3 separate regions of the Homo sapiens genome follow, and regions 1 and 3 are each linked to region 2. The links come from fine-mapping of genetic effects on gene expression. A gene starts in region 2. Each other region holds a variant in brackets. All regions are shown on one strand. Distances are from middle to middle.

Region 1 (8,179 bases), 43 kb before region 2:
CTCGAACTCCTAACCTCAGGTGATCTGCCTGCCTCGGCCTCTCAAACTGCTGGGATTACAGACATGAGCCACCACGCCTGGCCTGGGTTTTCACTTTCTAGTTTATTTTAATTTTTAAATTTCTAAAATTTAATTTTTAATTGACACATAATAATTGTATATATTCATGGGGTACATTAGTAATGTTGATTCACATAATATGTAGTGATCAGATCAGCATATTTACACATTCATCATCTCAAACATGTATCATTTATTTGTGTTAGAAATATTCAATGTTTTCTTTCCAGCTATCTGAAACTATATAATACGCTATTGTTAACTATAGTCATCCCACAGTACTATAAAACACTAGAACTGGCCAGGCGCGGTGGCTCACACCTGTAACCCCAGCACTCTGAGAGGCCGAGGTGGGTGGATGGCCTGAGGTCAGGAGATCGAGACCAGCCTGACTAACAGTGAAACCCCCTCTCCACTAAAAATACAAAAAAATTAGCTGGGCGTGGTGGCGGGCACCTGTAATCCCAGCTACTAGGGAGACTGAGGCAGGAGAATTGCTTGAACCTGGGAGGTGGAGGTTGCAGCGAGCCGAGACCGCGCCATTGCACTACAGCCTGGACAACAAGAGCAAAACTCTGTCTCAAAACAAAAACAAAACCAAAAACACTCAAAACACTAGAACTTATTCCTCCTATTTAGCTGTGATTTTGTTTCCTTTTACAAATCTCTCCCTATCTCCCCACTTCCCCCTACCCTCCCCAGCCTCTAGTTATCCTCTGTGCTACTTTTCACTTTATGAGATCAACTTTTTTAGCTTCCACATGTAAGTGAGAACTTTATGTTCCTGGCTTATTTCACTTAACATAATGTCCTCCAGTGGCATCTATGTTGCTGCAAATGACAGGATTTCCTTATTTTTGATGGCTGAATAGTATTCAATTGTGTATGCATACCACATTTTCTTTTTCTTTTTCTTTTCTTTTCTTTATTTTGAGACAGAATTTCGCTCTTGTTGCCCAGGCTGGAGTGCAATGGCACGATCTTGGCTCACTGCAGCCTCCGCCTCCTGGGTTCAAGCGATTCTCCTGCCTCAGCCTCCCCGGTAGCTGAGATTACAGGCATGGGTCACCACACCTGGCTAATTTTTGTATTTTTAGTACAGACGGGGTTTCACCATCTTGGTCAGGCTAGTCTTGAACTCCTGACCTCAGGTGATCCACCTGCCCCGGCCTCCCAAAGTGCTGGGATTACAGGCATGAGCCACTGTGCCCGGCCCATACCACAATTTCTTTATCCATTCATCTGCTGATGGGTACTTAGGCTGATTCCACACCTTGGCTGCTGTGACTAGAGCTGCAATCAACATGGGATGTATTATCTCTTAGATATACTGATTTCCTTTCCTTTGGATAAATGCCTAGTGGTGGGATTGCTGAATCATATGGAAGTTCTCTTTGCAGTGTTTTGAGGAACCTCTACATTGTTTCCCATGGTGGCTATACTAGTTTACGTTCCCACCAACTGTGTGTAAGAGTTCCCTTTTCTCTACATCCTTGCCAGTATTTTAAACATGTGGTTTTATTTGTGGTTTTGAGTCATTGTCCCCTGTTCTGTTGCCTGGTGAGGTGGAAATGCTTGGTCCACTGTCATTCAGAGACAGGTGAGGCCACAGTGGGGACTTGCTGGAAAAGGCAGCCTTCTTTTTGTGAATCCAAGAGCTCTTCAATGCCAGCACATAGTAGATGCTCAATAAAAACGGGCTGAACTTGATGTCGATGAAGAGAGGTTGTGAGTGGCGAGGACAAGGGGCTATGCTCTGTACTTTCCAGTCAATTTTTCTGAGAACCTAAAACTTCTCTAAAAACTAAAGTTTACTGATTAAAAAAAAATTGGCTGAACCAATGAACGCAACTGAGCAAACGCTTTGGGAGGCAACTTCAGGAGATGTTTGCTAAGTAACTCTGAGGAATAATATTCACATTACTAATACTAAATAATAATTAGTAATCACAACTAACACGTATATAACAGTTCACAGTGAACATGTCCTCTCATATACGATTTCATGTGACCTTGACAGTAACTCTGTGACATAAATGTTACATTCCCCTTGTCACAGATGAGGTAACTGAGAAGCAGAGAGGGCAGTGAACTTGCCTGAAGTCACACAGCTAAGTGGTGTGTCCAGCCAGTCCATGCATCTTTGTCTAAATTCCATTCTTTTTGCCTAAGACCACTCTTTGAGGCAGCTTCAGAGTGTCACGTGAACACAAAAGTCAGCCTGAGATGAGGTAAGTTTAATATTCTGTGCACATGTGAACAGCATGCTTTCTTTTCGAAAGCAGAGCCATTAATCAGTCTCAGCTGTGGAGTATGTTAGAGATTTATAGGTTTTTGCCTAACACTATCTACTTTTTCCCTTCTCAATTTTATTTGTTAAGACAATGAAACACCATTAAAGGGAACTTTTTTTTTTTTAAAGAATGCACCAGTAATCTGTCCACCCTAACATGACTATTTCCAATCTCCGGGTTCCTTTGGAGTCCCTGCCTGAATGTACATGTCAGCCAATGAGTCCCTGCCACTGCTGTGTTTTTCAGTCCTCAGAGGGGTCTCTACTGCCTGGTCTTAAGAAGCTGCTCTCTTGCCCTTTGTCCTGACTTGATTTTACCCAGATCAGCATGGCCCAAGGAGCTGAAAGGCCTCCCTTTGTTTTATTTGTTGGAGGTGGCAGATCTGGGTTTAAATACTGCATAGTCTAACCACAGACATGACTGCTGGGGACCCAACAGCCCTGGGGTTCAATCCTGATGCTTCCTCATGCCAGCTGTGTGTCTTTGGCCAGACACTTCATCCCTGAGCCTGTTTGGCCGTCTGCAGGATGAGGGACGCAGCCTGCTCCGCGGCGGGGCTGGGTAAATGAGTGCTATGTGGAAACTCTGGGGAGCACACCAGATGCTCAGCAAGAAATCCCCGCTCCTTACACTCTGCCCATATTGAATATGTTATTTTGAAAGTTATTTGGGGATAACTTTTAGTAGTCTGTAAGGCTGTGTGGTTTTTTTTTTTTAATCGTGTTAAATATACACAAGAGAAGATTTACCATTTCAACCACACTTGGGTGTACAGTTCAGTGGCATTCAGCACATTCACAATGTTGTGTAAACATCACCACCATCCATCTCTGGAACCTCTTCATCATCCAAAACTGAAACTGTGACTCCCCCCTCTCCCTCCCCCTGGGCCCTGGCAACCACTACTCTGCTTTCTGCCTCTATGAATCTGACTGCTGTAGCTACCTCCAATAAGTGGATGACACAGTACTTGCCCTTTTGGGACTGGCATATTTCACTTAGCATAAGGTCCTCAAGCTCCATCCATTTTATAGCATGTGGCAGAATTTCCTTCTTTTTTAAGGCTGAATAATATTTGATTGTGAGGCTGTGTTTTAAGGTTGGCAAAAAACCCCTCAGGACTGCCCGGGTGGCCCCGTGGCTGTAGCAGGGCTGTCTGCTGGCACTTTCTGCCATCATGGAGGTGTTCTACATCTTGCTGTCCAATCCAGTGGCCACTAGCCTCCTGGTAGCTATTGAGCAGGTGAAATGCTGCTCCTGCAACTCAGGAGCTCAATTTAAAAATTTTCTTTAATTGACTTGAATTTACATTTAAATACCCTCATGTGACGAGCAGCTGCCATCCCGGACAGTGCAGGGCTGGACTATCACAATATCCTCCTATTTAAACCACATCCAATTTTATTTCGTTTTCTTCATCACTGTGTCCAATGTCAACGGCCATCTGTGAGTTTGCTAGTTGCAAAGACTAGGACTCAGGATAAGATGCTGGGGGATTAGAGCCCTGCAAGCTTTCCTTGCCGAGCTGGTCTTGGTGTGTCCAGGTTTACGGCCACCAATTGCATCTATGCAGAGAACTGTAACACTAGGCATCCAAAGGCCTTGAAGTAGGTTCTCCAAGGGACCAGGC[C/T]CAGGCTGTCTGCAGCAGCAGGAGCAGAGGCATGCTCCTCAAAGCCTAACCCATGTCATCCTTGGTAATGAGAAAACCCACTACCCGCGCTCCCCCCAGATAACAAAAGAAGTGGCGCTCAGGGTGAGGAGGACTGGAAACTGAAGAGGAAGATGAGTCATTTGGGGAGTAGGAAGGGAGAAGGAGTCACATCAAGTTGCCACATCACAGGCTTCCAAGAAGAAAGAGAGAACACTCCATCAGCAGTTTTCAAGACATCAGCTTGCGGTAGAGGGAATGCGAGACACGCTGTCCAAAGAACACGCCATGGAAGCTGGCCACCACACGTGGTTTGCGTTAGCAGCAGCCATTGAGGCTGGACTTGGGAGGGGTTTACCCCCTCAATATCACAAAACCCCCAAGTCCCAGCGGAGCCGGAGCAGGAAGTGGAGAAAGGCCTGGGGCCATCATGCGCAGCTGCAGGCTGGCAGAAAGCCACAAGGTCCTGGGGCAGGGCTTTCAGGGCCCTGAACACAACGGTGTCCCTGGGCCTAGTCTACCATCTGTGGTTTGTTGTCTTTGAGGATTCTGGCCCCTCCACGAGCTGGTCTAAATATCAATGTGTCTGGTGTCCTGATGGACGTGCTGCACGGAGGCTGCCACCACCTCCGGTCTGTCCGCTTCTCTCCATACTTACTGCTCCCCCTAAGTCCAGGCCTGTATTTTCTCAGTTCAACCCCCTTACTACTGTTGGCCCTCTCTTCTGCCCCACTACCTCCTCACTGGTACACGGTAAGCACCTGTTAGATATTTGTGCAAAGAACAAATGAGTAAATGAATGAATGAATGAATGAAAAAACAAATGAGAAAAAGTGGTTAACTGGTTTGGTCAGCCACTCTCTGGGAAAGGAAAAATTACATACCAGGTGGCAGCAACAGGGCCTGGACCTGAGTTTAGCTGCAACTGCCCAAGATAATCATGCCTCTTTCTATTTTAGAAATAAAGAATTGCTAACTGTGTGGAAAAAGGCAACTACGGTATTTTCCCAGTGACACACCTTCCATATGGTAATAGCTTTTAGTGGGAAGGGAAAACTATTCCATTTAAGTATGCACAACACGTTGGAGGCATACTCCAATTCCAGAAGATAATGTCTGGGAGAAAAAGTGTGTCTGAGGATGGAGTAAAGGCAGTATTTGGATAAATATGGTTGGTGGAGTCTTGGGCCAGATGTTGGCTGGGATCTTGCTGGGAAGGCTTCCCGGCCAGGCAATGCCTGCCTAGGGAGTGAAAACTCTTCAGTTCTGCCATCCCCTAGACCTGTCCTCAGAAAAGCTGGAAGAAAACCCTCCCTTCCCTTTGGCCTCTGCAGTGGAGCATGGGGGCTTATGGGCAGATAGTCTTAAAAAGTACACTTGGGGCTGTTAAACTCCCAAGAGGGCCGAGGTGGAAGGACCAGGGTCTTAGAAGGAGACAGGTCAAGGCCGGGCGCAGTGGCTCACGCCTGTAATCCCAGCACTTTGGGAGGCTGAGGCGGGTGGATTGCTTGAGGCCAGGAGTTCAATACTGGCCTGACCAACACGGCAAAACCCCATCTCTACTAAAAATACAAAAATTAGCCGGGCATGGTAGCGCGTGCCTGTAATCCCAGCTACTCCGGAGGCTGAGGTGGGGGAATCGTTTGAACCCGGGAAGCGGAGGTGGCCGTGAGCCGAGATCGCGCCACTGCACTCCAGAGCGAGACTCCATCTTAAAAAAAAAAAAAAAAAAAAAAAAAAAGAAGGGGATGGGTCAGTCCTAGCTCAATGGAAACTGGAAACAAGCGGTTTTTGCTGCATGACTTGGGACAGTCTCTGGAGAGACAAAGGCATAGATGGAGATGCAGCCTCCACCTGTGATTTGAGGCGTCCAAGAACTGCTCGAGCCGTAAGCCCCTGAGCCTAGCAGCAACGCTCTGGCACAGCGTGCGGAGCAGGAGAGGAGCCAGAAAAGCTTCTCTGGATCTCTGCAGCATGAACTTCCCCGTAGGGAGTGTTCCTTCTTACAGATGAGGCTGGCATTTCTCCCGAGGGCTCCTTCACGGGCAGAGTGACTCAGCTGGTTCTGTGCCCCCCTGCCAATGTTGGAATTCTGGAAGATGCCCAGCTAAGACTCCTGCTCCATTGCACCTCTGCACCTTTGCACATGAGGTGTCCTCTGCATGCAATGCCCTCCCCCATTCGGTGGAGGGGCCACTCCTTATTCATTGTCAAGACCCTGCTCAGATGTCACCTCCTCCAGCAAGTGAGCCCTGTCTGAGCTCCCTGGCTAGGAGGGAGGTCCCTCTGTGAACACCTGGATTTCTCTCTATCTGAAAGAACATGTGCCTATTCCCACTACACTGGAAGCTTATGGAAAGCAGAGATCCATCTGGGTCCCTTGTGGCAGCTCGAGGTCTAGGTTAGCAAATGTTTAACTGCGCCTTCTGTGAGGGAAGCCCTGGCTCCAGTGATGACCATGACCCTTGGCCTGGGGGACACAATGAACCAGTGGGAACTCAGAAGACAAAGGTTGCACGGTACAGTGTAGAGGGGCTCATGTTTTGGTCAGAACTGCCCTCTGTGGATAGACTCTGCCTGTATCTTAGAGGGAGGAGCCAAATGGGCCTTAAAAAGGGGCAGCCATAGGCAGGACTCTATGTGGGTAAATCTATCTTTCAATAGGCAGATTGAAAGGCAATCCCGGGGCCCAAGGAGGCAGGGAGGTTAGGAGTGCAAGTTTCAGATCCAGCCACACCTGGGCTTGAATCCCAGCCATGCTGCTTTCTGGGCATGTGACTCTGTCTTTCTGAGCTTCAGTTTCCCCATCTGTGAAATGGATACAATACTGACCTCATGCCTGTGAGGACAGAATGAGATGGCATATAAGATGGGCATCTGGCACATTCCAGTTAGTGACTGCCGATATTGTTACTATGTGGCTCAACCCAGCCACATTTCTGCTAGGCACTACCCTCAGCTCTCTGGGCACTCCAGTCATCCCCAGTGCTCTGCCTGGATGCCAATTTCCTTTGCCACACTGATGGACTCCCCAGAGTAGTCCCAAGCCAGGGCAGAAAGGGAGAATCAGAGAGGCTGGGTGACCATCCCAAGGCCGCACAGCTGGTAAGACAGAGGGAAGGACCCGACACCAGGTATTCTTATTTCAAGCCCAGGGCTCTATCCCATTTCCTGCACCCTCAGGTGAATGAGACGTGTGGTCAGATGTCAAGTAAGAGCATCAGGCATCACTATCAGGCCCTTCTAAGGTAAGCAAGTCAGGAAACCAAGTTGGAAGGTGAATCTTCATAAAGGGGAACTTCCAGCCGGGCGCGGTGGCTCAGGCCTGTAATCCCAGCACTTTGGGAGGCCGAGGTGGGTGGGTGACTTGAGTCCAGGAGTTTGAGACCAGTCGGGGCAACAAAGCAAGACTCCGTCTCTACAAAAATTTAAAAAATTAGTCAGGCGTGGTGGCACACACCTGTAGTCTCAGCTACTCGGGAGGCTAAGGTGGGAGGATCACTTGAACCTAGGAGTTTGGGGCTGCAAGTGAGCTGTGATGGCGCCACTGCACTCCAGCCTGAGTGACAAAGTGAGACCCTGTCTCTACTTTTTTTTTTTTTTGAGACGGAGTTTCGCTCTTGTTGCCTAAGCTGGAGTGCAGTGCACGATCTTGGCTTACTGTAACCTCTGCCTCCCGGGTTCAAATGATTCTCCTGCCTCAGCCTCCTGAGTAGCTGGGATTACAGGTGCCCACAACCACGCCCAGCTAGTTTTTGTATTTTTAGTAGAGACGGGGTTTCACTATCTTGGCCAGGCTGGTATCGAACTCCTGACCTTGTGATCCGCCCACCTCGGCCTCCCAAAGTGCTGGGATTACAGGCGTGAGCCACTGCGCCCGGCCTCTACTTTTTTTTTTTTTTTTTTTAAAAAGGACCTTTTCATAGAGACTGTGAGTCTCTCTCTCTCTCTCTCTTTTTTTTTTTTTTTTTTTTTTTTTTTTTTGATATAGGGTCTTGCTCTGTTGCCTAGGCTAGAGTGCAGTGGCACAATCTCAGCTCACTGCAGCCTCGACCTGCTAGGCTCAAGGGATCCTCCCACCTCAGCCTCCCAAGTAGCCTGGGCTACAGGTGCGCACCGTCACACCTGGCTAATTTCTAAATTTTTTGTAGAGATGGGATCTTGTTTTGTTGGCCAG
Region 2 (8,179 bases):
AGAGGACTCTCAAAAACTGACTTTATAGTCTATGGCGCAGTGGCTGGGGTGGGAATGTGTGTGGTGCTGCCCCCTAGAGGACATGCAGCAATCAATGCCTGGAGGCCTTTTGGGTGTCACAATTGGGAAGGGGGATAACTAGCTGGGTAGAAGCCAGGGAAGCTGCTAAACATCCTGCAATCCACAGGACAGCCCTGAAACAAAGAATGATCCAGCCCCAAATGTCAAAAGTGTTGAGTTTGAGAAACTCTGCCCTTGAGGGATGTAGCAGTATTTACACAGAAGCTAGAGCTCAGAGAGGCAAACCAACCAGTCCGAGGTCACACAGCAGAAAAGTTCAACTCCCCAGCTGATGCTGTCTCTCCAGGGTGGCTTCAGAAAAAGGGATACCAAATGGGAGTCAAAGTCCAGGCCTGCCAATAGCTGCCTTCATGCCCGCTCTTTCCAGATTGTGTGAGGGGTTGGGGTGGAGCTTGGGAACAGCAGCGGTCGCCCACCACAGGGATCTGTTTCCATTGGGTTTGGCCCCCCTGCCATCAAGGCAGTAAATGTTCTCTGTTCCTGTGGATGACTCAGGCTTCAGTTCAGCCCATTGCCCCTCCTCATCTGATGAACCCAGAAGCCTGGGCTAGAAGGGAGAGGGCCTCTTGAATCACATGAGTGACTAAAGCCACATGCAGAAAAACAAGTTCTTGATGAATCCCCCTACCATGTGACTTTGGCATGTTCCCAATCAGTGACAAGATACCTCAGGACAGGCAGGCAGGGAGCTATGCCTTTAGGGCATTTAGGAATGCCCTAAGGCAGCCTGTCATGCGGCTGCTACCTCTAGGAAATGGACACCACCATCCCCATTACACAGATGAAAAAACTGAGGCTGAGGTGACACAGCTACAACCTGGGAGGCCAAGATCTGAATCCCAATCTATGTTTTAACATAGAAACTTGTCTCAGGGGGCCCCCAAAAAGTGGCTGAAAGCTTCAAAAGACGGTTCTCAAAGCGCAAAACCTTCAAAAAACTGGCAAGGATGGAGCTGACACAGCAGAGAATGAAAAGCTTCCAGGTTTTCACTAATGATAAGAGAGATTTCCCAGTTTTTCAGAGGACTTTGCTCAGAGAAACTATAGGGGTACCGGATGTGGGAAGTGGTGTGGTCCTTTTGGGGTCCAGCGGGCCTGGATCTACATCCCTGCTTGGCTCTTGACTGTGACCTTAGGCGTGGGACCTCACTTTGCTGAGCCCTGGTTTCCTCATCTGTCAAATGGGCTTAAGGCCCTCTGCCTGATATGGGCGTGATAGGAGAGGCCAGAAGAGGGCGCGTGGACGATGATGGCCGGGCCTCGGTGGCAGTATCTATTCTCGTTTTTGCCAGCTCACAGACCTGGTGGGAGGTGGCATGGAGAATTCCAGACTTCCTCCAGTTGCCATGTTGGTGAAAACTGTCTTCATGCCAAAGAGGCAAACTCACTTACACGCTAACAGGCTCAAACAAGAAACTAAGATTTGGCAGCATTTGAAAACAGTTAACAAAAAATAAAAAAAGGAAGGAAAAAAAAAAGACAATTTAGCTCAGCTCTGGAATCAAGGGAAACTTCACTCTATATAAAGATGCCACAGGTCCAGGAAATAGCTTCCCACCGCCTGGCTAAGGGCTGAATAACTGGCTGCCCAGCCAATAACAATACAGACTCACACAGCACACCCTTTCTTGTGGAGAGCGCGGAGTGGGTTCCCGGCTATCTCCTTTCAGAATTTCACAGGCTATTCACGGAAGGCATGCAGATCTACTTTGTAAGAATTAGTTCTTAAAAAAAAAAGATCTGAAGACGACTTCCAGGGAGGCCAAGGAGCTTAATTTAGCCAGCCAACGCCCTTTTCTATTCATTGTTCTATACTTCTTTGTTAGGATTTTTTCCCTCCCTCTTACTCTTTTTCCCTTCCTGGTTAACTTCTCTGCAGCCAGGCTCCGCCACTGCCCACTTCTCACCGCCAGAGACACTATAGCCCCCTTCCCTGCTGTAATGAGGCCCTCCCCAAGGCCTCATGTGGGCCCATCACCCCACATCCCCTTTATCTCCACCTAGAACCTGCGAGGTGGTCCCAGGGCCTCCTGAATCTGCAGACGTGTCCCCTAGGTTGCTGCGGAAGCCACTTTCCACCTGCAGGTCACCGTCAGCCCCAGGCACCCCTGCTGGAGGGAGGGAAGCCCGAATGCAGCTCTATGTTCCAGGACCTGCAACCTCTGAGCCTCAGCCTTCCTATCTGCAAAACGACGCTACTGTCCCATTTTCTCAAGTCCTTGCCAGCTCCAAACAAGATTCCCATGTTCCAGAGGGAGATGCCAGGAGAAAACTTTCGTACATTTTAAAACAGAAGTTACTGGAGAGAGGGGGCAGGGGATGTTTTTAACCCTTTAAAGGCGTAGCCACTCAAATGATCCATTCCCAGAGATCTCCTCCATCGCCCAGGCCGGCTCTTGCCAAAGAACGGAGTCAAATTCGGCGAACCCTAGAGGGGCTACCTGTGGCTGGGGACTGCGGGTCTGCGCGCCTCTGGACAAGGAGGGGCAAGGCGGGCGGCCTGAGAACAGGCACTTCTGTCTCTCCCGCTTTCTGTCTCAGACCCCTCACCGGCTGGAGCCAGACTTTTCCACAGATGAGCAGGACGGGAGTTGGGGGGACACGGAGAAGACAGAAAGGGGTAGAGGAGCCGCAGGGAGGCGAGTAGGGGGGCGAGGCGGGAGGAAGGGATGGAGGGGGAGAACGAGGCAAAAGCGGGGAGGGGAGGGGAGGGAGGGAGGAGGAGTCGGGAGGGACCCGGGCAGCGCCGCCGCAGAGCCGAGGGGAGAGCAGGGGAGGAGGGGACGGGAAGCGCTGGAGGCAGAAGTTTTCCAAGCCGGGGGCCCTCGGTCGCCCCCGACGGGGCGCGGGCTCAAGGGGGCGTGGGGGCCGCGCCGCACTCACATAATGCTTGTTGGGCACCCGCCGCTTCTGCACGTCTAGCACCTTCACCTCCACGATGCTGCGCCGCGGCGGCATGGCCGCTCCTCCGCCCGCAGCGGGCCGAGCGCGGGTGCGGGTGGCGCGGGGTGCAGGGAGCGCTGGGGGCGCGCCGCCGCGGGCAGGGAACCTGGAGCTGAGCGCAATCGCAGCCGGGGCCGAGCACGAGCCGCCGCCGCCACCGCCGCCGCCCTTCGCTCGGCGCGCACTCCAGCCGGGCCCAGCCGCCGCCGCCCGCCCCCGGCCCGCCCCCCGCACCGCCCCCCGCACCGCCCCCCGCACCGCCCCCCGCGCCGCCGGCCCGCCCCCCTTAAAGGGCCCGGCCCCGACCCCCGCCCACCGCGCGCGAACCCCGCCGGCCACGTCCGGCCCCCGCCCGGCCTTTGTCCCGGTGCTGAGCCGCCGCGCCGGGGGAGGGGACTGGACTGACCCCGTCGCCCGTTCACTGATTGACGTATCGATTCATTCCAGCACTCTCGCTCCGGCAGCCGCCATCCACCGCCAGTTTGGAGAGCCGGACACCCGGGTTCGAATCCCGGCTTTGCCGCTTTTCCACTCTGTGCCCTCGGCAAGTTGCTTAACCTCTCTGGGTTGGGTCTCTTCGTCTATAATATGAGCCTAGTAGTACAAGCACCATGTTTGTCTTTTTGTGTCTGGCTTATTTCACTCGGCATAATGTCCTCAAGGCTCATCCATGTTGTAGCACGTGTCAGTAGTACCGCCTGCCTGCCGGTGCTGCGCCCGGGATTAAGTGCATGTGAAGCCATTCCGCAGTGCAGTCCATGGTATGAGTGCTGGCGTTCCTAAAGCCACCCCAAGCCCTGGTGATTCAGGAGGAGCAAGAGACCCGTGACCAGGTTCCCCCAGCCTCAGTCTGGGACATGGGGAGTGAGGGAGAGAAAAACTGCAACAAATGCGCATACGTGCAATGTAATTGCCATGGAAGCAACAAAAGGGGATAAAAGGGTGGTGACTATGTGTGAGGGGCAGCTGGGTGCTTGTTAGCAAGGCCATCGATTTCCAGTTGCGGAGCACTTAACTGCTCGCTGGGCCCCGTGGCCCCTGCTTTTCACAAATGCTGTCTTTGCATCCTCAGGCAGACTCTAGGAGGAAAAGGTGTTTTTACAGAGGACGGCCTCCAGACATTTGGACATTTCCAATGAGGCCTGAGGACCCTCTGACTTGGGAACTGTACTTCAGAAGAATGTGCCTTACAGGAATTACATCAGTGAAGGTCCAGAGTCAGGGAGCCGGTGGATGGAGCCCGTCACTGCCTGGCTCTAGGTGGATCTCACACGTTGAAGCTGCCGTGGCTGGGGCAGCTCCTCGTTTCTTCATCTAGTGCCTCCTAGCACTGGCTGGGCACTGAGTCACTTTCAGGAGATGTTGGCTGAATGAATGGATAAATGAATATATAATGCATGGATGGGAGGTTTAGGCTCCTGGCCAGTGTTTTCACAGCCAGTAAGTGGGGGCTCTTTTCAACAAACCGTACGACTCTTCTCCATGCCACGACAGAGCTACTTCCCACCCCGGTCCAGGATCAGCCTTTGGAAAAGGGTGGGCTTATCCAGGGTAGGACGGCTCTCAGCCTCGGCCAGGCCACGTGGATGATTTGGGCTGATTCACTTTGGATCCGCCCCTCCATTTGCTCCTCTGACTTCCTTGCCAGACTTTACCATCCTGCTCCAGCCCCAGAGGCTGGCCTGTGTGGATTTCACTGACAGCTCTCTGTCCTGGTCTTCCTGTTTGGCTTGGCCAGTGGAAGGGCCTGGCAGGAGATTGAGGGCAAGAGGAGAGAGGGAGGTCTGGGTATTTAATCCCTAAGCCCCTCCTCCCCGATTGTTTTTACCAAAGGTGCCCTTTCTCACATGGTCTCTCTCAGGGTTCCTGAAGCCACTTTTCTGCTCAGGACAGTGACAGTCTTGCTGTTGCAAGCCCTGGGTACTACGCCATCCTCGGTGCTTCCTTAGCCCCGCCCACACCCGTATACATTGACCCTTTACTAAACTGTCTTCATGGACCCAGCTTGAGGGTGGCATCTGTTCGGTGCCAGGACCCTCACTCATGTAATTCCTGTAAGGCACATTCTTCTGAAGTACAGTCCCAAGCCAGAGGGTCCTGAGGCCTCATTGGAAATGTCCAAAGAAGTGAAGGTCTGCTTTTCCGTCCCTGCCACATCGTGCATTGCCTTATTAGGAGCCAAGCCTTCCTAAGAAGGCAGAAGCTAGAGGCCCTCTCTGAATCAGCCAGCTTCCTGGGTTTTTCCGGAGAGGCAGAGAGACCTGCCCCCAGCCACACCATGGGTGGCAGAGGTGGGTCCTGCTGGCTGTGTCCGTCTCCTCTGTCTGGGGAAGACAAAGGTCCCCCCACAACCACCAGTAGCAGAAGATGCTATCCCTGCATCTTTACGTATCTTTCCTTTGTTTTACTTTTTTATTGTAGTAAAAAATACATAACATAAAATTTAACATTTCAACCATGTTTAAAGCATACAGTTGAGTGGCATTAAGTACACTCACATTGTTGTGCAACTGTCACCACCATCCCTCTCCAGAACTTTCTCATCTTCCTAAACTGGAGCTCTGTCCCTATTAAACACTGAGTCCCCCCCCACTGCCCCCCAACCTCCTCCAGGCCTTGGCAACCATTGTTCTACTTTCCATCTCTATGAGTTTGACTATGCTAGGTACTTCATATGAGTGGAAACACACAATGTTTGTCTTTTTGTGTCTGGCTTATTTCACTCGGCATAATGTCCTCAAAGCTCATCCATGTTGTAGCATGTGTCAGAATTTCCTTTTTATGGCTGAATAATATTCCATTATATGTATATAGCACTTTTTCTTTATCCATTCATCTGTCAACAGTCACTTGGGTTGTTTTCATCTTTTGGCTATTCTGAATAATGCTGCTGTGAACATTGGTATAAAAATATCTGTTCAAGTCCCTGGTTTCAATTCTTTTGTGCATATACCAAGAAATGGAATTGCTGGATCATGTGATACTTCTATGTTTAATTTTTTTTTGAGGAGCCCCTAAACTGTCTTCCACAGGGGCTGTGGCATTTCGCATTCCCTCAGCAATGCACAAAGGTTCCAATTTCTCTACATCCTTGCCAACACTTGTTATTATCTGTTTTGTTTGTTTGTTTTGTTTTGTTTTGTTTTGTTTGAGAAAGAGTCTTGCTCTGTCTCCCAGGCTGGAGTGCAGTGACGCAATCTCAGCTCACTGTAACCCCTGCCTCCTGGGTTCAAGCAGTTCTCCTGTCTCAGCCTCCCGAGTAGCTGGGACTATAGGCGCCCGCCATGCCTGGCTAATTTTTGTATTTTTAGTAGAGATGGGGTTTCACCCTATTGGTCAGGCTGGTCTCAAACTCCTGACCTCAGGTGATCCACCCCCCTCAACCTCCCAAAGTGCTGGGATTACAGGCATGAGCCACCGCCCCCGGCCTTGTTTTGTTTTTTAAGAGACAGGGTCTCATCCTGTCACCCAGGCTGGAGTGCAGTGATTTTGATCATGGCTTACTGCAGCCTTGATCTCCTGGGCTCAAGGGATCCTCTGCCTCCGCCTCCCTGGTAGCTGGGACTATAGGCACCCACCAGCACATCTGGCTATTTTTAAAATTTTCCTTTTGTAGAGACAGAATCTCACTATGTTGACCAGTCTGGTTTTGGACTTCTGGCCTCAAGTGATCTTCCTGCATTGGCCTCCCAAAGTGCTGGGATTACAGGCATGAGCCACTGTGTCTGGCCTGTTTTTATTTCTTTATTCGTTCATTTGTTTTTGATAATAACCATTCTAATGGATGTGAAATGGAATCTCATTGTGGTTTCGATTTGCATTCCTCTAATGATGAGTGATGTTCAGCATCTTTTCATGTGCTTGTTGGCCATTTGTTTATCTTCTTTGGAGAAGTGTCTATTCAAGTCCTTTGTGCATTTTAAAATTGTGTTATTGGTTTTTTTCTTCTTACCTTTCTATATCACCCATTTACCTCCTAGACAACTTGGGCTTTTCTGAGTGTCCACCATAGTTTTTGGAGAACTGAATTGTGGGCTGGTGATGCAGTTTAGGCTGGCTGTTCAGACTGGAAAGATCCATTTAGGCTCTGCTTGGGAGAACTGCAGATTATCTGCTGATAAAAATCTCAACCCAGATGGTCACTACAATTCACTGGAACTGGACTAGTTCCTTGTCACAAACACAAAACACTTCTGCAAATTCGAGTTCATCAGGGAGCCCAAACCTAAGGGAGAACTCGAATGGAAGAGAAATCCCACTTGGAATTCAAATAGGATTCCAAGTGGGATTTCTCTTCCATTCGAGTTCTCCCTTAGGTTTGGACAAGGATTCCTTTTAGACTCTATATAGTCTAAAAAGAGGAGGGACCCTTCGTTCCAGAAATCCCTGCCCCTTTCTTAGAAAACTCGTGAATAATCCACCCCTTGTTTAGCACGTGATCAAGAAATAACCATAAATATACTTAGACTCGAGCATCCCATGCCAGGGCTCTGCCTATGGGGTAGCCATTCTTTATTCCTTTACTATCTTAATCAACTTGCTTTCACTTTATTCTATGGACTTGCCCCAAATTATTTCTTGCATGAGGTCCAAGAACCCTCTCTTGAGGTTTTAATCGAGACCTTTTCCGGTAACATCACCGACATGCCTTGGCATAAGCTGCTCATTTCCCCACCTTGTCTGCTGGTGAACTCTCATTCAGCCTTCAAAGTCCATACTGAATGTCACTAATATCACTTCCTGTAGGAAGCCCTGACTCCCAGATGGGTAATTGTCTCCCCCCCACCCAGCTGCCACTGTGCCTTGTCCCAGCTGTCATTCTGGGCTGTGATTGTTTTCTTAATATCCAACTCCTTTGCCAGACTCCAAGCTCCCAAGGAGCCGGAATGGCCTTATTTGTCTCAAGTTTCCCACCTTTGGCACAGAATTAGCAAAGAGAGGCCCCAAAGAGATGCTGTGGGCTGAATGAACTCATCTCTATCTCATGAACTCTAACCTAAGTCCTCAGGGACATTAATTGAACCTCCAGGGCCAGGCTTGCTGTTGCCCCTGCCCATTCCCCAGACCTCTTCACGCCATTTCCCTGTTTCACACTGTTCTGGGAGCACTGACACTTCCCCTGATTGAGGTGTGGAGTGTAGAAGGTGGAAAAGGA
Region 3 (8,172 bases), 570 kb after region 2:
AGCCGAGTGTGGTGGCAGGCGCCTGTAATCCCAACTACTCGGGAGGCTGAGGCGGGAGAATCGCTTGAACCCGGGAGGCAGAGGTTGCAGTGAGCCGAGATCGTGCCATCGCACTCCAGCCTGGGTGACGAGAGTGAGACTTCGTCTAAAAAAAAAAAAAAAAAAGCGATTCCTGGCCGGCTGCAGTGGCTCACGCCTGTAATCCCAGCACTTTGGGAGGCCAAGGTGGGCGGATCACAAGGTCAGGAGTTCGACACCAGCCTGGCCAACATAGTGAAACCTCTTCTCTACTAAAAATACAAAAATTAGCTGGGGATGGTGGCGCGTGCCTGTAATTCCAGCTACTCAGGAGGCTGAAGCAGGAGAATTGCTTGAACCCAGGAAGTGGAGGTTGTGGTGAGCTGAGATCGTGCCACTGCACTCCAGCCTGGACAACAGAACGAGACTCCTTCTCAAAAAAAAAAAAAAAAAAAAGAAAAGAAAAGAAAGGGATTCCCTAGATCCCAATGTACCATGCAGAAAGGATAGCAGTATGTTACCAAATTTCACTCTCCCAGATTGGTAGTTGGAGGTTGGTTGGGCTTGTTTACCTTAACCCTGCCCTCCTCCCCACACCACTGCCCACCAATGAAAGAAATTCAAATTCATACACAGTTGACCTTTGAATAACGTGGAAGTTAGAGGTTCCGATCCCCTGCACAGTTGAAAATCCATTTATAACTTTTGAATCCCCCCAGATTTAATTACTAATAGCCTACTGTTGATCAGGAGCTTTACCAATAACATAAACAGTCAATTAACACATAATTTGTATACGTATTATATCCCGTGTTCCTATAATAAAGGAAGGTAGAGAAAAGAAAATGTTAAGAAAATCATAAGGAAGAGAAAATATGTTTACTATTATATTAAGTGGAAGTGGATGAGCATAAAGGTCTTCATCCTTGTTGTCTTCACACTGAGTAGGCTGAGGAGGAGGAAGAAGAGGGCTTGGTCCTGCTGTCTCAGGTGTGGTAGAGGCAGAAGAGGTGGAGGAGGTGGAAAGGGAGGTGGAGGCAGGACAGGCAGGCATATGAGCAGGCCCAGGCATCCAAGTCGACCTGCATGGTTCAAACCCATGTTCAATGGTCAGCTGGATTTTGAGTAGGAACTAAAGGCAGTGTGTATTCTGCTTCATTCCCCTGTCTGTCTTCCTCCTTCCCTGACCACCCTGTCGAAATAATGCCCCGTCAAGCCACTCTCTATTCCTTCTCCTTGCTTGACTTCCTTCATAACAGTTATCACCTGACATTCTATTATGTAAGCTCTGTGAGGATAGTGACATTTCATTTTTCGCCATTGTATTTCTGAGGCCTAGAACTTAGTAGGTGCTCATTAAATATTTCTTTAGTAAGTGAAGAATGGTTTGAATACTCAGACATTTGCATATTTTTTTGTTGTTTGCTTTTGTCTGAGCTAAGTGATTCTCAAAACTTTATTTGGCATATGAATTACCGTATCATATATAAGACCCTTTATACAGAACTTTGTGAGCTATATAAGAAAATTTTAAAGATAAATCTATGCTATTTTTCTTTTCTTTTTTTAGAGACAGGGTCTCACTCTGTTGCCCAGGCTGGAGTGCAGTGATGTAACTATAGCACTGCAGCCTTGAACTCCCAGGCTCAAGGGATGCTCCCACCTCAGCCTCCTGGGTAGCTGTGGCTACAAGTGCAAGTCAGCAAACACAGTGAATTTTTAAAATTTTTTTATAGAGACGGGTTCTCACTGTGTTGCCCAGACTGGTCATCAACTCCTGGCTTCGAGTGATCCTTATCCTCCCAAAGTGCGGGATTATAGGCATGAGCCACCGCACCCAACCTGTTTTTCACTTTTAACCCTGAAGTCGGCTGGGCGAGGTGGCTCACGTCTGTAATCCCAGCACTTTGGGAGGCCGAGGCGGGCACATCACGAGGTCAGGAGATGGAGACCATCCTGGCTAACACGGTGAAAACCCATCTCTACTAAAAATACAAAAAATGAGCTGGGCGTGGTGGCGGGCGCCTGTAGTCCCAGCTACTCGGGAGGCTGAGGCAGGAGAATGGGTGAACTCGGGAGGCGGAGCTTGCAGCAAGCCGAGATTGCACCACTGCAGTCTGGACTGGGCGAAAGAGCGAGACTCCATCTCAAAAAAAAAAAAACCCTGAAGTAAGATGTGACACCATTTTACTTCCTTTATAGTTTAGTCTGTAATACAGAGGAATACCTCATTATTTAGATTCTGAAGTAAACTGGGGAGAAGGTAAATGCCCATTCTGTTAAGTTCCACAGTAGGATGTGTTACATATTTTGGTGGTGATGGGGATTAGAAAAGGGGACCTTACATGTTATAGTCTAATAGGAAGATGATAAGCTACAATCAAACCTTGCCTGTACCAGTAAAAATGGGTGTGTCATGTAGGTTGTGGGTCTTAACATTTGGAGAATGGATAAAATAAGACACATTTTCCCTGAGGTTGGAAGTTGTGATGATGATAAATTGAGATTAAGTGAAAACGCTTTGAAGCGAAGATATCATGAATTCAGGAAATCTTGGATACTTGGAAAGATAATCAGGTAATGAGAGAAAAGTCAGAGACTTACTGTGACAAAGCCTCACTGCTTTGTGATATGTCTCAAGATGAAGGCAGGCTACGTCCTGGGAAACATTTTGTTATCAGACATGCTGCTGTTAACACAATGTATATGGAAAGTTTGGTGTGAATGCAGTAGATTTAAGTTTTGCTAGTGTACTTTTTCCATGCTAATTGAAAATGGTCATGTTCCAACATGATTTCACCGCTTCGTTGTTTCTCTCCCATCCTTCTTTTAGTTGGCTGATTGCAATTCTGGCCCAACTCAACCCTCTCTTTGGACCGCAATTGAAAAATGAAACCATCTGGTATCTGAAGTATCATTGGCCTTGAGGAAGAAGACATGCTCTACAGTGCTCAGTCTTTGAGGTGACTATGCTTGTGACCTTTCTTATCAGTATGGTCAGGCAGTCAGAGTTTGCCTTGACTTTTTCTCACATTTTATGGCCATTTTAACACGTGGCAAGGGCAAGCTGCTGAATGCAAACACGATCTGAAGAGCAGAAATAAAATTGGAACTTAAGCCTTAGCTTACCTAAATCTCATTAAGATTCTTTTTAGATTCTGCTATCACCCTGCCTTTTTAAATAAATACAGTTTAATTTACAAAATTAAGCTTGCATGCACTCTTTCAGACGCAGATCAAAAAAGTAACTGTTTATACTTGGCATTGTGAGATCCAGCAACTTTAAAAAGTGGCTGGCAGATTTAAAATTGAGCAGGTTTCTTTCCAGCAGTAGTCAGCCATCCGGACAGAACCGTTCCTGTGATGGTGTTACACTGCTGGGAGAGGAATGTCTTGTCTTCATCCGGTTGCCTGCGCCACTGTTCTGGTGGCGTCTGGCACTGGTGCAAGACAGAGCTGTGCTTCCCCGAGAGTGTGCTAAGCATTCACTTTGGCTGCTTAGTTCTAGTCTGGGAGCAGACAGAGAAAACAAAATTAAGGTTTTTGAATGCTTTGGATGGAGAAAGGTGCCTGCGTCCGTTTGTTTTGTGTTGCTATAAAGGAATACATGAGACTGGGTAATTTATATTTGGCTCGCAGTTCTGCAGGCTGTATAAACATGACACCCGTATCTGTTTGGCTTCTGGTGAGGCCTCAGGAGGTTTTTACTTATGGCAGAAAGCAAAAGGGGGGCAGCCGTGTCATATGGCCAGAGAGGGAGCAAGAGAGAGAGAAGGAGGTGCCAGGCTCCTTTAAACAAGCAGCTCTTGTGTGCACTAACAACTACTTCACTCGTTACTATGGGGAGGTATATTAGCCCATTTTCACGCTGCTGATAAAGACATACCCAAGACTGGGTAATTTATAAAGAAAGAGAGGTTTAATGGACTCACAGTTCCTCGTGGCTGGGGAGGCCTCACAATAATGGCGGAGGATGAAAGGCAGTTCTTACATGGTAGCAGCAAGAGAGAATCAGAACCAAGCAAAAGGGGTCTCCCCTTATAAAACCATCAGATCTCGTGAGACTTATTCACTACCATGAGAACAGTATGGGGGAACTGCCCCCATGATTCAGTTATCTCCCACCAGGTCCCTCCCACAACACGTGGAAATTATGGAAGCTACAATTCAAGATGAGATTTGGGTGGGGACACAGCCAAACCATATCAGGAGGGTACCAAGCCATTCATGAGGAATCCACCCCCATGACCCAAACACCTCCCACCAGGCCCCACCTCCATCATTGGGGATCACATTTCAACATGAGATTTGGAGGGGACATATAATCCAAGCCATATCAGTGCCTTTTGAAAATCAGTCTTTGGTCGTGCGCGGTGGCTCACGCCTGTAATCCCAGCACTTTGGGAGGCTGAGGCAGGTGGATCAC[G/A]AGGTCACGAGATCGAGACCACGGTGAAACCCATCTCTACTAAAAATACAAAAAATTAGCTGGGCACAGTGGTGGGCGCATGTAGTCCCAGCTACTCGGGAGGCTGAGGCAGGAGAATGGCTTGAACCCAGGAGGCAGAGCTTGCAGTGAGGCGAGATCGCGCCACTGCACTCCAGCCTGGGCGACAGAGCAAGACTCCGTCTCAGAAAAAGGAAAATCAGTCTTAAGGTTGCAGCTTCTATTTGTCCTGAGGGTCAGAGAGGTTAGTAGTGGTATAGTGGAAAGATTTATTCACTGGCCGAGAGTCAGGAAACCTCTTATTTAATCTGTTCGTTGTTTTCATTATTTTGTTAAATGGAAGTTAGCTTTAAATGCCTTGACTAGATTTAGGTTCAAGTTTTTTGGCTCTTTAGGTGTTACTGTAAACTGTGTATTGCCTCCCATCTGGAGAAACAGGATGTCTGGCTCTGGCTCTCCTATGTTTAGTAAGGCTGATGTGATCACTGGGTTCAGGTAATGACAGCCTGGTTCCTTCATTTGTAAAGTCCTTTTTATCAAGTGATTTTATCCATTGATGATCATAGCCTGAATTAATCATTTTAGTTGAAATGGCAAATGGTGATTTGCTGCTGCTGCTGTTTTTTGTTTTTGTTTTTGTTTTTAATTGAGACAGAATCTCATTCTTGTCACCTAGGCTGGAGTACAGTTGCACAATCACGGCTAACTGCAGTCTTGACCTCCTGGGATTAAGCAATCCTCCTGCCCCAGCCTCCCAAGTAGCTGGAATTACAGTCATGAGCCACCATACCCTAACTTTTTTGTTTTTGAAAGAGAGTCTCTGTCACCCAGCTGGAATGCAGTGGCACCATCATGGCTTACTGCAGCCTCACACTCCTGGCTCAAGTGATCCTCCTGCCTCAGCCTCCTGAGTAGCTGGGACTACAGGCACACACCACCGTGCCTGGCTAATTTTTAAATTTTGAATAGAGACAAGGTCTTACTATGTGGTCCATGTTTTGGCTAATTTTTAAAATTTTATTTATTTTTTATAGAGAGAGAGGGTCTCTTTCTATGGCCCAGGCTGGAGTGCAGTGGTGTGATCATAGCTCACTGCTGCCTTGAATTCCTGGGCTCCCGAGATCGACCTGTCTTAGCCTCCCTAACAGCTGCAGGCACGCAGCACCACGTGTGACTTTTGTTTTGTTTTGTGGAAATGAGGTCTCACCATCTTGCCTAAGTTGGTCTCAAACTCCTGGGCTCAAGTGATCCTCCCACTTTGGCCTTCCAGAGTGTTGTGATTATGGCCATCAGCCACCGTGCCTGGCCGCAAATGATGATTTTTCCAGTTCTATTTTTATTTATTTATTTATTTATTCATTTTGAGACAGAGTCTTGCTCTATCACCCAGTCTAGAGTGCAGTGGCACGATCTCAACTCACTGCAACCTCTGCCTCCTGAATTCAAGTGATTCTTCTGCCTCAGGCTCCCAAGTAGCTGGGACTACAGGTGTGTGCTACCACACCCAGCCAATTTTTGGTTACTTTTAGTAGAGATGGGTTTTCACCATGTTGGCCAGGCTGGTCTCAAACTCCTGACCTCAGGTGATCCACCCGCCTAGGCCTCCCAAAATACTGGGATTATAGGCGTAAGCCACCATTCCCGTCTGATTTTTCAATTGTATTATTACCTCTGCATTTGATGAGCTGAAATGCTTCTATAAAGATAACTTTCCTGCCAGGCACAGTGGCTCATGCCTGTAATCCCACTACTTTGGGATGCTGAGGCAGGCAGATCACTTGAGCCCAGGAGTTCGAGACCAGCTTGGGCAATATTGTGAAACCTTGTCTCTACAAAAAATACAAAAATTAGCCAGGCAAGGTGGTGCACACCTGTAGTTCCAGCTATTCAGGAGGTTGAGGTGGGAGGAGAACTTGAGCCTGGGAGGTGGAAGTTGTAGTGAGCCAAGATCGCACCACTGCACTCCAGCCTGGGTGACAAAGCAAGACTCTGTCTCAAAAAACAAACAAACAAAAAACTTTTCCTCATCAACAGGATGATCTAATAGACTTGAAATATAGATCATGGGGCCGGGCACGGTGGCTCACCCCTCTAATCCCAGCACTTTGGGAGGCAAGGCGAGTGGGTCATGAGGTCAGGAGATCGAGACCATCATGGCTAACACGGTGAAACCCCTTCTCTGCTAACAATACAAAAAAAATTAGCCAGGCATGGTGGTGGGCGCCTGTAGTCCCAGCGACTTGGGAAGCTGAGGTAGGAGAATGGCATGAACCCAGGAGGTGGAGCTTGCAGTGAGCGGAGATTGCGCCACTGCATTCCAGCCTGGGCGACAGAGCAAGACTCCGTCTCAAAAAAAAAAAAAAAAAAAGAAAGAAATACAGATCATACAAAAATACGGGAAAAGCAGAATACAGGTTTAATTCTTTTAATTTTCATAGTAAGATGTTGGTGGCCAAGTTCCAGGGTATTCAATGAGATTTTTTTTAAATTTTAAATAATTATATTTTTTACCCTTTATATGGTTGTGTTTTGTTGTTGTTGTTTTTTGTTGTTGTTGTTTTTTGTCTGTGAGAACCTGTTTAGGATGGCTTCTATGTACTTTTGGTGTTAGTTTTTGGTAGTTTCCTTACTTTCTGGCAACATCAAAATGTCCAGGCCCCTCTTCTATATTTTCTGTCCGAGACTTAGATTTAGCTGTTCTTTGAATTGGTTTCTGAATTCCCCACTAAAAGGATGTCTGGTTTACTAACAGTTCTCAGGCCCATTTGACTCTGGTTCTGTTCAGTGGAAATGGCATTTAAGAATCACGATCGGAGTGCTAGGTGCGTTTGTTGCTGCCTGGGGTAATTAAGCATAATTGCTTCTAAGCCTTTTCAATGGAAAGAACCAGGAAGTAATGTATTTTTCAGATGAAAAATAATCTTAAGTTTACATTAGTATTTTCTCTTCAAATATAACATTACAGAGTTTTTATTTTATTTTATTTTTTTCTTTTTTCTTTTTTTTTTTTTTTGAGACAGAATCTCGCTCTGACGCCAGGCTGGAGTGCGGTGGCGTGATCTGGGCTCACTGCAACCTCTGCCTCCTGGGTTCAAGCGATTCTCCTGCCTCAGCCTCCCAAGTAGCTGGGATTACAGGTGTGCGCCACCACGCCTGGCTAATTTTTGTGTTTTTAGTAGAGACGGGGTTTCACCATGTTGGTCAGGCTGGTCTCGAACTCTTGACCTCGTGATCCACCCACCTCAGCCTCCCAAAGTGCTAGGATTACAGGTGTGAGCCACTGTGCCTGGCATTCTTTTTTTTTTTTTTTTTTTTTAAAGACAGAGTCCTGCTCTGTTGCCAAGGCTGGAGTGCAGTGGCAGTATCTTGGCTCACTGAAACCTCCACCTCCCAGGTTCAGGTAATTCTGCCTAAACCTCCTGAGTAGCTGGGACTATAGGCACACACCACCACACCCAGCTAATTTTTGTGTTTTTAGTAGAGATAGGGTTTCGCCATGTTGGCCAGGCTGGTCTCGAACTCCTGACCTCAAGTGATCTGCCTGTCTCGGCCTACCAAAGTGCTCGGATTACAGGTATGAGCCACCATGCCTGGCCTGAAAATTACTGTTCCTTAATAACAGTAACTTTTATTATTCTACAATGTATATAAAATACTTTTTTTTTTTTTTTTTTTTTTTTTTTGGAGACATGGTCTCTGTCACCCAGGCT

Evidence for each region. PIP is the estimated chance that this variant, and not a neighbour inherited with it, causes the effect. A credible set is the group of variants that fine-mapping cannot tell apart.
Region 1: its variant is the best candidate, but not a certain one, in a credible set for the expression of SH3PXD2B in whole blood (INTERVAL, PIP 0.50).
Region 3: its variant is the best candidate, but not a certain one, in a credible set for the expression of SH3PXD2B in hippocampus (GTEx, PIP 0.85).

Annotation. Positions count from the first base shown.
Region 1 is chr5:172,408,741-172,416,919 of GRCh38, forward strand. All of the region lies in intron 2 of SH3PXD2B (SH3 and PX domains 2B), which reads right to left. Among named protein-coding and RNA genes, the nearest start is that of SH3PXD2B, 42 kb to the right of the region's middle. RefSeq lists an enhancer at 3,961-4,462. The variant C/T (reference allele first, on the strand shown) is at 3,985.
Region 2 is chr5:172,451,314-172,459,492 of GRCh38, forward strand. It overlaps SH3PXD2B (SH3 and PX domains 2B), which reads right to left and starts at 3,212. Exons shown (of 13, transcript NM_001017995.3): 1 at 2,965-3,212. The coding sequence starts at 3,039. RefSeq lists an enhancer at 2,178-2,699.
Region 3 is chr5:173,017,387-173,025,558 of GRCh38, forward strand. It overlaps ATP6V0E1 (ATPase H+ transporting V0 subunit e1), which reads left to right. Exons shown (of 4, transcript NM_003945.4): 3 at 2,852-2,981. The coding sequence ends at 2,945. SNORA74B (small nucleolar RNA, H/ACA box 74B) reads left to right here and starts at 3,340; the gene lies at 3,340-3,543. RefSeq lists an enhancer at 65-608 and a silencer at 2,840-3,134. The variant G/A (reference allele first, on the strand shown) is at 4,445.